Regions from separate parts of the Homo sapiens genome. Here region 1 is linked to region 2. Evidence: fine-mapped expression QTL. Tissue or cell type: whole blood. Region 2 holds a variant in brackets; the other region holds the start of a gene. All regions are shown on one strand. Distances are from middle to middle.

Region 1 (2,765 bases), 53 kb after region 2:
ATTTTCCTCGTTTTTACCCAGAAACAGCTTCTCAGAGTACTGGAACAAGTAGTACACACGTGGGTCTAAAAATCACACATACAGTGTATTGTATGAGTTATCCCTAAGGCGCGCACACACACGGGTAGGTATTACCTGTACATTTGAAATCTCACTCCATAACTAATTTTTTTAGCCCAGGCTCTTCTCATTGGGTTCCTGGACAAAATCATTTCTAACCCAGCTAAGAAATATGGAATGCAACTTAGGTCAAGACAATGAGCCTGCCAAGGCTCCTGGACTTCCCACTAGTCTGCCAGTGCCTGGAGCACCCACAGCTGCACAGGAAGCTGCTGTGCCCGGCTACCTCCAGGTCCCCGCACCGGGTCGGCAAGGTGCAGCAGCCCCCAAACCCAGGCTCCGAATATTCCCCAAGCGCGCTGAGTGCGAGGTCCCCACCCGCCTCCGTCTGGGGATGCCCGGTCTTGCTCCCTAGACTAGATTCCCTCTCGAGTTATCTACGACCCTGTTCCACCGAGGGCGCTGCGTTCTCATAGCCTAGACAGACGTTCCCAGCGTTCCAGCCCCACCAGCCACCTCCGACACCCCACCGCGGCGTTCCCATCCAGCCAAGCCCCAGCATCCGCCCATTAGCCAGCTGCCGGCGGTTCCCATCACAACTCCGCTCCTCGCGCCCACCCTCTCAGAGAAGCCCCCTCCATCTTTCCCCGGCGAAAGCACATGCCTAGACCCACCCTACTCTTTCCGGGGTTCCCCTACCTCGGGCTGCCCTTCCTCGGGCTCTCCCTACCGCCCCGGGCTTCCTCTCCTCCGCACTCCCCTCCCAGGTTCCGTTCCCCTCCGCCCTGCGGAGGGCGCCCCACAAATGCGGACAGGACGCCCCTCGTTCTGCCCTGTCGGACTCCCCCACGTCTTGGTCCTGAATCTCCCGCCCTCCGGGCTCAGCCTTCCCAACATCGCGGTCCCCACACCCCCGCCAGCTCTCCAGGCTCAGGCTCCATGACTCCCCAGCATCGCAGTCCTGGCCACCCCACTACAGCCGTTCAGAGCTCCAGGGCTCCCCAGCATCCTAACCCGTCGTCCCCCCTTCCGGGCTTGGATTCGGAGACTCAACATCGGGGCCCTAAACTCCGGCCCCTGGCCTCAGGTTCCCAACGCTGCGACTCTGGACCTCCCCTCTGAGCTCGGGGTGCGAGGACTCCCCAACGCCGCGATCCTGACGTCCCCGCCTCCCGAGCTCGGGCCCCGGGGCTCCCCGACCTCGCGGTCCCAATACCCAACTCGACCCGTTCCGCGCCTCCCGCGGCGGGACTCACCGGCAGGGGCGGCGGCCGAGCCCGTGCGCGTAGCCCAGCCCGGCCCAGCCCGCGCTCCCGCCTCGGGGTCCCGGCCACGAGCTTCCCGCGGGTGGCTGTGACCGCGGCGGGCTCGGCTCGGGGGAGCGGCCGGGAGGAGGAGACCGCCGGGGGCGGGTGACGCCCAGCTCCGCCCCTTCCCGACCCGGGGGCGGGATGCGCAGACCCGCGCGCTCCGCTGCAGCCCGCGCCGCTGCCGCCGCTGCGAGGAAGTTGACTGACGCCGCTTCCTTCCACCCAGGACGCAGACCCTCGCAGTCCCTGGTAGCTGCAAAAAATCCGGAGAGTTTGAGACAGAGACGCCTTAACCGCCCTCATATTCTTTCCAAGAATTCACCTCTCAGGGGGCCATTTCCGAAGTCCCTCGGGAAGGGCGGAAAACAATAACAAACTTCATCTGCGCTGTCAAGACTGATTTAAATCCTGGCCTTTCTCTCACCACTCTCGGGTGAACGTTCAGGGTCATGCCCATGATATAAATAATGTGATGACATACCACGGAGGCCCTTGCAGACACTTCCACACCCCTAAGATACACCCGCCCAAGACTCGCGCCTCTCCCATGACTACATCACACAGACACATCTGACACTGACCTGCAGAAGATCCCACTTCTACCCTGTGTCCTCAATCCACAGCCTTCGTGGGTCCCAGCAATAGCGACCCACACATACAATCTATTGGAGGCAGGGTGCGGGGGTGGGTTCCACCTCCCGACTTGCTCCTCACCCACAATGTTCTCGGTATTTTACCATGAGAAAAAGACAGTTAAGAAGTTGGATGATCAATTAACAAATCAAGTTGGCTTTGCTTTTAAAAAGCCTTCTTCATTATCTGGAGAAAAGAGAAGGCCTGGGAAGATGGCCTGCTTACTGTAAGATTTTGTCAGACAGGCCTAATTCTGGTCTGCTTACTGTAAGATTTTCTCAGACGGCCTAATTCTGGTCTGCTTACTGTAAGATTTTCTCAGGCCTAATTCTGGTCTGCTGGTTCCCAAAACTTCTCTTATACCACCGTGTTTCAGTGACATGTTGCACAACATCTCACATTTGTACAATGTTTCCATTTTTCAAAACATTTTAGCCGAGTGTGATGGTTCACACCTGTAATCCCAGAACTTTGGGAAGCCAAAGTGGGCAGATTGCTTAAGCCCAGGAGTTCGAGACCAGCCTGGGTAACAAGGTGAGACCCTGTCTCTGCAAAAAATACAAAAATTAGATGGGCGTGGTGGCACACGCCTGTAGTCCCAGCTACTTATTCTCAGGCAAACATCACGAAGCAAAGAAAGTAATCTTAGCAGGATTATTTCAGTTCCATAAATGAAGACATTTAGACTCTGAGCAGTTGCACGGCAGGTTTGAAGCTGAGTCAGAGCCAGGAAAGAGCCCAGGGGCCTGTCTTTAGAGCCAC
Region 2 (2,765 bases):
CATTCTATAATACCTAAATTCACAGGACAAAAAATACCAAAGGGCTGTGTGTGCATGTGTCCTGGATTACTTCTGCAGTGATTTGGTGTTCTGCTTCCCTCTGCTGGGTAAAAATGGTACAGCAAAATTTCTGGAAAAGAAAACAACCAATTACATACCTGCAGGTTTTGCAGGTACTTGGGGGTGTGGTGAGCACGTGAATATGGCCAGGGGGTGTCCCTCAGTCAGAGTGCTCTCTAGCATTCCTTTCCATCACTCCATGGCCTCTGAAATATTTTATCTAAAAAGAGGGCCCAGTCATCCACTTCGATCTTTGCAAAGTATGGGAAAAGGAGAAACATCCAGTGATTAGATTTAGGATCCACAGGAGATCTTCATTTGACACAAAAATTACATCATTTGGGTCTAGACTATTTTAGTCTTGATGTGGGCTCCTGCCTGGGGTTTGGAAAAACCTGTATTTCTGCTGCTTTTTCCTCCCTTAAGTCAAACCTATTCAATAGCTTTAGCTGATTCCGTTGGAATTCTCTTTCCTTGTCAAAGCTGATGGAACATACTTCACAGGATATAAGCGTCATAAGAAGATGGTCTTCATTTTTTCATTGCCATTTTCCTAACTCTCATCACAGTGCCTAGCACTACATAGATGTCCATTAAATAGTTGGAAAATTACTGACCTACTACAGTTAATGAATGAATGACTCAGCGGTCACGTGGGAAAGTATTTTTCAAACTGCTGCAGATTTCCTTTAGCAGTTCTTCAAATCAACTTAATAGGTTGTGACCACAACGAGAATTATTTTTAAAAAAGAATAGAATAGAAACTATCCAGATGCATTCCATTTTGTTTGTAAGAATAATTCAGTGAAAGTTTTTTCAAGATATATACATACATATACATTCATAGTGAGAGTATATCATGATCACAGTCAAAATGCTTGAAAAGTAATTGACACAGTCCGGTTAGCTCATTTTACTAATGAGAAATCTCCAGACCAAAAGAGATCAAGGAACTATCAATTAATGACTGGTTCCCAATTGAGTATTTCTTACACTCCACCTCAATCCTCTGACATCTAGGAAAGACAGTCCTCATTTAGCTCAGGACAGATCATTGATCTTGGCATCCTGCTTGTGAGACATCTCTGGCATAATAAAGCTCTCAATAGTACGGAGAAAGAGAAGTGTGAGAATGTTGTGGTAGTAACATTGACTAGAGTTTTAGATTCCAAATGTGGACAAGAAGTGAATTCATTAATTCAGGTAAATGGCAACTTTGAAACAATAGGGAAATTGACACCTTCTATTGAGCATCTCAAACCACTTTCCTTTTCCCCTTTCACATATGCAGCATGAAACAGAAAGTAGAACAGGTTAGGTCCTGAGAGCCACATTCCTGTCCTGTTAAGAATATTTGTGTGAGTTTGGACAATTTACCTATCCAAGTCTCCTGCTTTTCATCTCTAAAATGAAAAGCCAGGACCAGAGCTAATGACCATTAATTGTTTGAGGGTCATGGGATCATTTTTAAAATCTTGTAAAAGCTTTAGACTTTGGTTCCCTAAAATGCACACATTCACATGTACTTATAATTTCATGTAGTTCATGAAAGCTCCAGTGAGTCTAGAAATCACTTCATTGAGTTTTCCCCTCTTTAAAATCTATGGAATGAAAAGTCTACAATATAGTACCCCAAAGGCAGAATGATGTAGCGGTAAAGTG[A/T]GTGGACTGTAGGAAACTCTCCAGGACAAATGATTGTTTGGCCAACAACTGAATTGGAAAGGAGTAAAAAGACTGGGGTAGAAGGGAAACCTATAAATTAGAAAGAGATTTAAGTAAAAAGTCAACCAATTGCAATGTGTGGGTCCTATTGGGATCCTGATTTAAACTAAATACTTTGAAATAATTATCACATTTGTGAGACCATTGGGAATTCAAACACAGGATATTTGATGGTAAGGAATTGTTCTTCAGTTTTTTAGACATGATAATGATATTGTATTCTTGTGTAAAGAGTCTTCATCTTTTAAGGATACATAAAAAGCATGTATTGTAGGAAAAATTATATAACATCTATAAAATTATAGATATTATATAATATCTTATATAATATATGAGATAGTATATATTATATAATTATATAATGTCCAAAATAATATGGACAGAAGCAAGTGAGTAGGGATGTAGATGAAACTAGATTCCCCATGATTTGATAATTGTGTATGTGATTACATGGGAATTCATCATACAATTCTATCTACTTTTGTATATGCTCAAGGTTTTTCGTAATAAAAAAATAAAAATAAAATATTATGGACTGCAGAGTCAGACTGCAGAGTTGCAAATCCTACCACTTACCAGCTCTGTGACCCTGCAGAAGTTTCTTAACCTTTTAATAGCCATAAACAGGAATAATAATTGTTATTCCCAATTCACAAGGTTGTTGTGAGCATTAAATGAGTTCATATATGTTAGCACTTACTGTAGTGCCTGGCACATAGTAAGCGCTCACTGACTGTTTGCTATTACCATTGTCTGGGGGAGCATGGTGAATGGACAGTTTGGTCAGTGACTGGGAATTGGAAAAACTATGGAAAATTAAAGACAGATTAAGGTAAAAAGAAAGGAGAAAAGGGGGGTAGGGAAATATGTTGGGCACTTTAGAGAATGCAACATGTAGAAGGGTTTGGTTTGTGTGAGTTAAGTCTTTCTTTCCTTTTTACCCACCCCCCACCTACCAACTCTGAATAAATATCACACACACA

What was found. PIP is the estimated chance that this variant, and not a neighbour inherited with it, causes the effect.
Region 1: it holds the start of PAQR8, and the variant in region 2 is fine-mapped to the expression of PAQR8 in whole blood (INTERVAL, PIP above 0.99).

Annotation. Positions count from the first base shown.
Region 1 is chr6:52,360,801-52,363,565 of GRCh38, reverse strand. It overlaps PAQR8 (progestin and adipoQ receptor family member 8), which reads right to left and starts at 1,415. Exons shown (of 2, transcript NM_133367.5): 1 at 1,317-1,415. RefSeq lists silencers at 1,163-1,652, 1,826-2,011.
Region 2 is chr6:52,414,061-52,416,825 of GRCh38, reverse strand. No RefSeq gene overlaps it. Among named protein-coding and RNA genes, the nearest start is that of EFHC1, 4.9 kb to the left of the region's middle. RefSeq lists a silencer at 1-235. The variant A/T (reference allele first, on the strand shown) is at 1,723.